2 separate regions of the Homo sapiens genome follow, and region 1 is linked to region 2. Evidence: fine-mapped expression QTL. A gene starts in region 2. The other region holds a variant in brackets. All regions are shown on one strand. Distances are from middle to middle.

The links. PIP is the estimated chance that this variant, and not a neighbour inherited with it, causes the effect. A credible set is the group of variants that fine-mapping cannot tell apart.
Region 1: its variant is the best candidate, but not a certain one, in a credible set for the expression of TXNDC11 in whole blood (TOPMed, PIP 0.88).

Annotation. Positions count from the first base shown.
Region 1 is chr16:11,699,346-11,704,726 of GRCh38, reverse strand. It overlaps TXNDC11 (thioredoxin domain containing 11), which reads left to right. Exons shown (of 12, transcript NM_015914.7): 6 at 4,163-4,275. Among named protein-coding and RNA genes, the nearest start is that of SNN, 34 kb to the right of the region's middle. The variant G/T (reference allele first, on the strand shown) is at 3,004.
Region 2 is chr16:11,740,146-11,745,526 of GRCh38, reverse strand. TXNDC11 (thioredoxin domain containing 11) reads left to right here and starts at 2,670. Exons shown (of 12, transcript NM_015914.7): 1 at 2,670-3,050. The coding sequence starts at 2,797. TXNDC11-AS1 (TXNDC11 antisense RNA 1) reads right to left here and starts at 2,513. Exons shown (of 1, transcript NR_186412.1): 1 at 1,021-2,513. RefSeq lists silencers at 2,168-2,690, 2,553-3,222.

The sequences.
Region 1 (5,381 bases), 41 kb after region 2:
TTATAACCTTGACACTTCTGAAGAATATTTCTCAGGTATTTTGTAGAAAATTGCTCAATTTTGTCTGTTTTCTTGTGACTGGAATAGGTCATGTCTTTTGACAGCAATACCATAGAAATAGGTACTTCTCAGCACTTCTTATCAGGGGGTTCATATGATGTCAGTGTGTCTCCTACTGGTGACATTAACTTTGATCAGTTGGTTAAAGTAGTGTCTGCTGTGTTTCTCCACTGAAAAGTTACTATCTCTTCCTTTGTAATTAATAAATAAATACCTTGGGGGAAGATCATTTGACACTATGTAAATATATCCTCAAACTTCTGCTCATGAATTTTAGCCTCCATCAGTGGATCTTGCCTGCAACAATTACTCTGGTGTTCAAATGGTTATTTTCTGTTTCTTTCATTCTTTTTTCATTATTAGTGGAATTCTCCCTTAAAGAAGAGCTGACTGTTCTCATTAATATTATTATGGAGTCATGGGTATTTATCTTATTCTGTGTACTGTCATTGTTTATTTTGTTGCTCAAATTGTTCCAACTTTGGCTACTAGGAGGGCTTCAGCTTGGCTCCTGGGTCCTTTGGACAAACCCCCATCCTTTTATGAGCACTTCTTTACTTCATTTATTTTTTTTGAGACGGAGTTTCACTCTTGTCACCCAGGCTGGAGTGCAATGGCAAAATCTCGGCTCACTGCAACCTGCACCTCCCGGGTTCAAGCAATTCTGCTGCCTCAGCCTCCCAGATAGCTGGAATTACAGGTGCGTGCCACCACATCCGGCTAATTCTTGTATTTTTAGTAGAGATGGGGTTTCACTATGTTGGCCAGGCTGGTCTCAAACTCATGACCTCAGGTGATCCACCCGCCTTGGCCTCCCAAAGTGCTGGGATTACAGGCGTGAGCCACCATGCCCAGCCCACTTCTTTACTTCTGATACAAGATATTTCAGGCTTATCTTGTACTTTCTTCACCCCAGCTCTGGAATCAACCTCTTCTCCAAGGGCCCTGGTTTCTTTTACTGGAGAATGGCATTTAGAAACCAAGATCTACGTGCTAGGTATGCTCTTTGGTATTAGGATGTCATTACTTCTAGGTCTTCTCAGTAGATAGAACTAGGAAGTGTATTATACCCACACATGTGCATATATCTGTATTTCTCTATCCATCCCCTCTCTCTCCCTCTGTGTGTGTGTGTGTGTGTGTGTGTGTGTGTGTGTATCAAAAGCCTTAAGTTTATACTCATTCTCTCTGATTTCAATTTAACATCACAGGGTTTATTTTAGCCTTCTCTTATTAATATATAACTTCTTACTGCAACAGTGAGAGTCCTGGCTGTAATTATGTATAATGTACTTACCACAAAGAAGTAAATAAGTTCATAGTTTCAGAATTGCTAACTTATACCTCTTTAAGAAACACATTTACTACCTAGATTTACAGCATTTATGTACAGTTCTTTTTGCCTTTAGTTTTACAGCATCCAGTCAAGATACTGTTTTCCAGTTACTTAGGTTCTTTCTTCCTGTCCCATTCACCATGGTGTTACCCGTTTGCAATAGTTAGGGTTATTTGTACGTGCTGTATTCCACGTTGGGTTTGCCACATCTCGCTTGGTTTTAACTAATTGTTTAATTTTGGAGTGTGTGAAGGGTGTGTGATACATCACTGTGGCCCTAGGAGTCAGATACAAAAAGGCCTACTCAGTGCCAGGCCTCCTCAGCCCTGCCTTCCCGTTTCCAGTCCCCTTTCCCCAGCCTGGCTTATTTGTCCTGTATTTCTTTTGTTTTGTGCCATTTTACACTCATCAGATTTGTATGAAAAATTATTGACTCTGGCAGTAGGGACATACTCACTCCGACCTCATCCTTGTCGGCCACTCCTTACCTGAGGGAGAGAGGACCACACCACTGAAAGATGGGGTCATGGGATAAAACTGGAAACTTTATGGGTTTAACACCTCAATATTTTTATATCTTAGCTACTTGTGTATAATTTGGTAATATTTGATGTTTAACTGTTTTTTAAAAAAAAATTTATTTATTTACTTTGGAGGCAGAGTCTCACTCTGTTGCCCAGGCTAGAGTGCAGTGGCACGATCTTGGGATCTCAGCTCGCGGCAACCTCTGCCTCCTGGGTTCAAGTGATTCTCATGCCTCAGCCTCCCAAGTAGCTGGGATTACAGGTGCCCACCACAACACACCCGGATAATTTTTATATTTTTAGTAGAGACAGGGTTTCACCATGTTGGCCAGGCTGGTCTTGAACTTCTGAGCTCAGGCAATCCACCCACCTCGGCCTCCCAAAGTGCTAGGATTAAGAGCATGAGCCCCTGCGCCTGGCCTGTAGTTTAACTGATGTTTTATTTAGCATGTGCTAATAAAGCAAAAAGGGGATAGGAAAGAATGTACCTTTTTCTGCAGTATCTTATTCACCCTCCTTTAACACTAAATACTTTATAATCACACAAATATTATACTCCATGAAAAAAAATGAAAGCTTCACACATAAGGATAAGGTCCCTGTTGATGTTCGTTCTCCAACATCAAACCACTTTCATTATCCTTTTAGATTCTTTATACATTTCTAAACATATGTGCCTGTAGGGGAAAAAACATATATATATATATATATATACACATACATACATACACACACACACATACACACACATAACTTTTATAAGTGTGAGTTCTTTTTTTTTTTTTGTTAACATCAAAAGTCTACTCTTTCAGCCTCTGTTTGTGGTGTATAGTCCTGCCTCATTGTTTTTAACATTTGCAGAATGTTTCTTGGTGAATATCCTTGCATGTGACTCCTAACAAACATGTGGATGCTTAGCAGTGGAAATCCCAGCTGTGTCCATTCTTGTAGTCGGTACAGCAGCTGCTTTCCTGAGTGGCTGTGCCGTTTTGCCTTTTTCCACCAGCATCACATCAAATACTCATTTCTTTACTTTCATCAATACTTGATGTTTCCTTTGTCTTAAATTCTTGGCAATTTGAG[G/T]GTCAAAAGTAGTCTTTTGTTTTAATTTGCTTCCTTTTGGGATAGTGAGGTTGAGTTTATTTCCAGTAATTATTAGCCATGTATACATATTTCCTTTTCTGTGGTTTGTCCATGTTAACAATTTTCCTTGTTGATTTGTATAAGTCTTTATATATGCTAGATTTGTTCATTTAATAAATATTTTTTGACCTCTTAACTATACACCCCGGCACTTCTGTAGGTGCTGGGATACTAGCATGAAACAAAGTCTCTAATTTCACAGAAATTACAGTCAGAAGAGGAAATTGGGCCGAGTGTGGTGGCTCACACCTGTAATTCTGGCACTTTGGGAGGCAGAGGCAGGCACATCACTTGAGGTCAGGAGTTCGAGACTGCCCTGGCCAACATGGTGAAACCCCGTCTCTACTAAAAATACAAAAATTAGCTGGGTGTGGTGGCACACGCCTGTAATTGCAGCTACTTGGGAGGCTGAAGCAGGAGAATTGCTTGAGCCCATGAGACGGAGGTTGTAGTGAGCCGATATCGCACCACTGCACTCCAACCTGGGCCACAGAGCGAGACTCCATCTCAAAAAAAAAAAAAAAAAAAAAAAAAAGAGGACATTGGGCCAAAGGAAATCTAAATAAATGAATGAGATTATGCAAATGTTAATAAGTGCTATAAAAAATAGGGTAATTGGTAAAGGGAGTACCTGAATGGGTCAGGAGCCCAGTTTCCCTTTGTAAACTCTCTCCCCTAAATATTAGCTGTTAGGTGGGGTGGTCAAGGAAGGCTTCTCACAGAAAGTAGGAGCTGAGATGAGTAATGACAAGGAACCAGCCACAAGAAGTGTCCAGACAAAGAGAACAGCATGTGCCTCAGCCTGTCATCAATGGGGACAGGTCAGACCATCATAGGTGGACACAGGGGACTCCTCAGCACAAGTGATTGTCAGAGACGTTAGTCAGAGACATCCTCTCAGAAGCAGGCTTGACATCTGAGGGGCCGAGGTCGGTTTCAGGAGGAGAGGTTCCTCAGCGCCTCTTCCTTCCCTCTCTAGGCTAGGTTACCAGAAGGAGCTTAGCTGCAGGGGTTTGTGCTTCAAGACTTGATCACTGGGTTTTGTGGTTGTTTTAAGGCACAGGCCTTTTCTTTAATAAAGGAAAATTTTCTGTTTCAGATTACCTAGGAACAGTACGATTTGGGGTTATCACAAATAAACATCTTGCGAAACTGGTATCCTTAGTACACTCTGGAAGTGTGTATTTACATAGACATTTCAACACATCACTTGTAAGTATTTTGAAATCACGTTTATGTTAGCGCAGTGGTTCTTAACCTTGTTTAGGTCACAGACTCCTTTGAGAATTGGTTAAAATCTATGGACACTCTCTAGAAAAGCGCATATGATTTTATATATGGATGGAGAGTTCTTACAGCCCCACCCTAGAGCCCAGGCTCCAGGTTAAGAACCCATGCATTAGAGGGCTCTTGAAATTAATGTATAGAAATTCTTTATTTGTATTCTTAGATTTTGGTACAGACTTTAAAGTTTTTCTTCTTGGATAAAATTGCAGAGTTACTCTCTTGAAGAATTGTTACTCTGAGCCCGTGTTTTCAGAAGCTAGGCTTCCACTGAGTGATGTTCTGTGTTTATCTGTTTCTTTTATGATGAGTAGTAATGTGACATGCTTTTCTCCTTAGCTGATGTAATGGATTTTTGAAGTTCTTGTCAAGTCACAGTGAGAAGTTGATGGCTTCTCATCCCAGAGAGCGTCAGTTTTCCATTGTCGCCTTTGTTCCCCGATTTCATTTGCTTTCTGTGGAGCAGCCTGAACTCAGCTGCTTCTGAGCATTGACCTGTGTCCTGCTCAGTCCTATGCGTCTACTCTGTTGCTGCTTCCTAAGTCACATCACTGAGTTGACTTTCCTGAAGTATTCTGTCTCTCTCGCATCACTGTCAGTAACTTACAGGTCATATACAGATCAATTTCCCTGCACCCAGTGTACCCAGCCTTTAAAACCTGCGCCCCCCTTGGCACAATGTCTAAGTCTTGTGCCTTCGGAGGGGCTGTTGGGCCCACTCCAGGGGTGCCCCCTTGCTTGCCAGTCGCCCTGGCTTCTGCATATCTCTCGTAGCCCAGATGCTGTGCTTTACTTCTTGCAGTTTATATTCCAAAAGTCAAATGTATTTTTGTGTTTTCCGAATGGAAATGTTTGAGTGTAGTTTGAGTATGGTTTTTCAAACTCCCATCGTCCCACCTTGACAATCACTGCTGTGGTTGTTTCTCTGCTGCCCACCTACGCTCCTTGTGCCTCTGCCTAAGCTGCTTTGACATCATCTGCTTTTGCTATCTGTCATTTTCCTACATCCTTCATTTTTAGCATGTTACACAGCC
Region 2 (5,381 bases):
GGTGCCACTGCACTCCAGCCTGGGTGACAGGGCAAGACTCTGTCAAAGAAAAGAAACAGTACAATAAAAACAGTATCATAATTTTCTGGGACCACTGTCACAGCACATGACACATATATATTCCTCTGCCCCATTCCCTCCTCAAACCCCGAGCAACTTGATCTTGGTATAAAAAGTGGCCAAGAGGCTGGGCGTGGTGGCTCATGCCTGTAGTCCTAGCACTTTGGGAGGCCGAGGCGGGTGGATCACCTTAGGTCAGGAGTTTGAGACCAGCCTGGCCAACATGGTGAAACCCTATCTCTACTAAAAATATAAAAATTAGCCAGGCGTGGTGGTGGGCACCTGTAATCCCAGCTACTTGGGAGGCTGAGGCAGGAGAATTGCTTGAATCCAAGAGACGGAGGTTGCAGTGAGCCGACCTGGTGCCACTGCACTCCAGCCTGGGCGATAGAGTGAGACTCCATCTCAAAGAAAAAAAAAAAAAAAAGTGGCTATGGAAAACTCAGATACAAGTTGGTGTGGACGAGTTAGGGCTGACCTAACCTATGAAAAGTAGTACAGCCTGACCCGAAAGGCCTAGTGTATTTTGAAACAAATTTATAATTGTTTCAGAAGAACGTTCTGGGCCAGCTGCAGTGGCTCAGACTTGTGATCCCAGGACTCTCGGAGTCCAGAGCAGGAGGATCACTTGAGGCCAGGAGTTCAAGACCAGCCTGGGCAGCACAGTGAGATCCCATCTCTACAAAAAATAAAAAAGAGAACATTCTGCTGCCAGAGCAGGGCCCCAGTTGCTCAGAAAGTGAAGAGGAAAGGAGGCATTCTTTTGTTAATCCAGGGTGGTTTTCTGGTCAGTAAGACACTGCCTTGCATTTGCTCACAAAGGACTATGGGTTTTGTGAGATTAAACCACAGACAACGAAAGTACTTTGGACCTTATGAAGCCCTGTGCAAATGTCAGATGTCTTATGGAAGTGTAGGGTAAATTCTGTTGCAGCAAGCTACAGTGAATGAGGACACTGGTGACTTTTGACCATATTTATTTTCTTTAGCAATAAATTGTGTAACTCTAATCTACACAAAGGAATCAACAGAAGTATAAGTGGCAAATTAGAAGGTTAAAAAAACTCTGTAACTATATATTTTTTCTCAGCTTTTTAAAACAAGATTAACACTGTATGGTTGGGTTTGTAACATAGATAATAAGGGTAATAATAACACAAAACAGAGATGAGGGACAAGTTAAAAATAAAGGAATTAATGTTATACGAGAAAATAGCTACTTTCTACAAAATAAGGCAGTATAGAAGAAACAAAAAGATGTGACAGGTGGGCGCAGTGACTCATGCTTTTACATAATCCTAACGCTTTGGGAGGTCGAAGGGGGAAGATCGCTTGAGCCCAGGAGTTCAAGACCAGCCTAGGCAACATGGAGAGACCTTGTCTCCACAAAAAAAAAAAATTAGCTGGGCGTAGTCGCACACATCTGTGTTGCCTACTACTTGGGAGGCTGACGGGGGTGGATCGCTTGAGCTGGGGTTGTCAAGGCTTCAGTGTGCTATGATTGCGCCATTGCACTCCAGCCTGGGTGACACAAGACCCTGTATCAAAAAACAACCAAAAAAAAAAAAAAAGTGACATATAGAAAAGAAATAGCAAAATGGTCGGTGTACATGAACTCACAACATGTTGGGCCTGGGTGGTTGACACATTAAATGTCTGGCCAATTGAGCAAGACAGCCATTGATTGCCCCATTCTACATCCACAGAAGCAGAACCAGACAGGAAGTGATGAGATTTGCACGTGGGTCACATAGCTGACCTGTGGCAGAGGTGGCGTCTCAGCTACTGGCCGTTAGCTGTGCCTTCTGTTTGTGGCATAACACCATATTGCCTTAATGCCCTCGAAGTTTTATTTGTCTAGTTTGTTGTTATTGACATTGGAGGACAAGTCCTTTTTTTTTTTTTGAGACAAGAGTCTCTCTCTCTCTCTCCCCCAGACGGGAGTGCAGTGGCGCCATCTCCACTCACTGCAACCTCCGCCTCCAGGGTTCAAGCAATTCTCTGCCTCAGCCTCCCAAGCAGCTAGGATTACAGGCGCCCGCCACCACGCCCGGCTAATATATTTGTATTTTTAGTAGAGACGAGGTTTCACCATGTTGGCCAGGCTGGTCTTGAACGCCTGGTCTCATGTAATCTGCCCGCCTTGGCCTCCCAACGTGCTGGGATTACAGGCTTGAGCCACCGCGCCCGGCCGTGTTTTTTTTTTCTTCAGTTAAGTTGGGATAAAAAACGGCACCTACGTGCTTCGGGGCCTGTAGTGAGAATGGTGGACACGATTATTGTCGTTACGGCTCCTAAAACCCAGCGCGGCGAGAGCAGACTACAGCGGTGTCAAGGTTCCAAGTATTCCCCGCGGGCCTTATCCCAAGGGAGCAGCTTCTCCACGCCCCGCGACGGCGCCTGCGCAGACTCCGTGAGCGGGGTCGTGACCGGTGGGGCCAAGACTGGGCTGCGGGCGGGGAAGGCTTCCGTGCATTTACGTAGGGTGCAGGGCGTGGCCCGTTGGGGGCGGGGATTTGGGCGGTGTCGGTGCCCGCCCGGACTCCGTGAGCGGTGGGCGGAGCTGCGTGCTCTGGGGTGTGAGGTGGGGCGGACCCCGCGGCGGCGGCGCGGCTGACGTGGAGCGTCCGGGTTAGCGGGTGCGGCGAGCTGCGGGATTGGGGAGCAACGGGCCGGGCCGGGCCTTCGGGCCCGAGGCGGCGGCGGCGGTATAAAGCCGGCGACTGGGAGCATGTAATGTCGGAATGCGGAGGCCGCGGCGGCGGCAGCAGCAGCAGCGAGGACGCCGAGGACGAGGGAGGGGGCGGCGGCGGCCCCGCGGGCTCAGACTGCCTCAGCTCGAGCCCGACCCTGGCCACAGCGTCCTCGGCGGGCCGGCTCCGTCGCGGGCTGCGTGGCGCCTTCCTCATGGCGCGCCAGCGGCCGGAGCTGCTCTGCGGGGCCGTGGCGCTCGGCTGCGCGCTGCTCCTCGCCCTCAAGTTCACCTGCAGGTGAGGCGGCCCGGACCCTGGGGCCCCGCTAGGGCGCTCCCCTTGCTCTGCCGCCTGGAGCCTGCAGGGCCGGGTCGCAGCGGCCTCAGCCGGGGAAGTCGGGCCTGACCTTGCCCAGGACGGCTGACCCCTCCCGGAACCTGCGGCCACGGCTTCCCACCTTCTCCTCGCCCCGGCCCGCCCGCGGACATTATGGCGAGGCTTCCGGGTGGAGCCCTGCGCCCTATCGTCCCGCTTTAGTGCCGAGGGAGGCGGGTCGGGGGTGCTCCTCACCTGTTGGAGTCACTAGGGGTGGACCTGTCACTTCGGCCCGGGCTGTAGGACCCTCATTTCTCACCGATTTCATTCCCCTTAAGCTTCAGGTGTAGTGATCCACAACCTTGCGAGAGTTCCAGACCCCTTTTAGAATTCCCGCACTCATTGATCTAACGATTATTTTTATTTTGAGACGGAGTCACGCATTGTGTCCCAGGCAGGAGTGCAGTGGCGCGATCTCGGCTCACTGAAACCTCCGCCTCCCGGGTTCAAGGGGTTCTTCTGCCTCAGCTCCTGAGTAGCTCGGATTACAGGCGCGCGCCACCACGCCTGGCTAATTTTTGTATTTTTAGTAGAGACAGAGTTTCACCACGTTGGCCAGGCTGGTCTCGAACTCCTGACCTCACGTGATCCACCCGTCTCGGCCTCCCAAAGTGCTGGGATTACAGGCGAGAGCCCCGCACCCGGCCTGATCTAACGATTATTTATCTGCACCTACTATGTGCCGGACGCTCGTCCGGGTGAACTTTTTGCTCCCTTGAGTGGATGGGACAGTGAACAAGTAAATATAATTTTTTAAAGCTTCAGTGCTATGCAGGGCATAGAAACGATGGCGGTGGGGAAAGACTTCCTAAGGAAGTGACATTTGAAGCTTATACAAAAAGGAGAAGGGACCAGCGCTGGGAAGATCCCGGGGGAGCGTGTCCACGGTAGAGCGAACAGCAAATGCAGAGTTTCTGAGGCTGGGCAAGCTTGGTGTTTCCCTGGAATTGATAAAAAGGCCTGACAGTAGGCTGGGGTGTAGGGGGTAGGAACATGAAAGTTCATGTGTGTCTTTTCAGGAATGTACACACATACAAAATTTGCTGTATATTTCAGGTGTACTTCTGGTCTCCCAAATCCACAGTGGGTCTTTTGGGATTCCAGTTTATAAGATCTGTATTGCTACTATGATATCTGTGATTTCACCTCGGAACATTTTTGAGTTTATTTAGCACGATATGTGGCCAGTTGTCAAAGAGGTGTCAAAAGATCGGGGATTTTAGTGGAAAGATAAATTATAATAACTCTCAGTGAGCATTTTCCATAGGCCAGGTACTGTCAGCAGGGTTTCTCCGTCTTGGCACTGTTGATATTTTGGGTCAGATAATTCTGTGTTGTGGGGGCTGCCCTGACTACTGTAGGATGTCTAGCAGCATCCCCGGCCTCTACCCACTAGATACCAGTAGCACACCCCACAAGATGTAACAACTACAATGGCTTCAGACATTGTTAGATGTCCCCTGGGAGCAAAATTGCCTGCTTGGGAACCACTGTTTCCATGAAGCATTTATTCATTTAGTACATAATTGAGAGCCTAGTATGGGTGTCATTTAAATCTTACAATCCCCATTAAAGTTTGAATATACTGTTATCTTTCCCAGTGCACAGATGAAGGAGTCCAGCCTTCGTGATGTTTCAGAACCTGCTCCAAATCACACCTACGTGATAAGGGGCTGAGCTGGAATTTGAATCCTTTATTGTCAGGACCTCCTAGATTCTTAACCTTGTACTTTATTCTTGTCTCCCACAAGGACAGTATACAAAGTATTTTACAAGGTAGAGTGTTGCGAGGTGACATTTAGGTTCAAATTAGGAAGAGAGGTTTCCCCCTCCAGGGGTGAAGTTTATTTACATCGGTTTGTTAAAGTCTAGAAATAATGGTTAATGTTTGTTCTGAGACAGCATGGCTTAATTGATACAGAAGTCCTTTGAGATTGAAAAGGAAGGAAGAGAGTAAATCCAGTTACTAGAGTAGGCAGAATGAGATCCTTTCTTGCTTCAGGCAAGGAGAATGAACCAGTAAATGGCTGCTGCTTCATCTTCTTTCTGTGTCACTGGCAAATTTGACAGTCTTTTAATAGACTCGGATTAATTTTTTTAGGGTCATCTTTGATTGAATGGTGTCATGATACTGTTTATTGCTGTGCAACTGGCTAACATTTCTACCCCCGCTTTTCCTCTTTCAGTTTTAAGATCTTTGCTTTAATAAGGAGATAGGCTTAAGGGAGAATAGGATTTTTTTTTTTTTTTTTA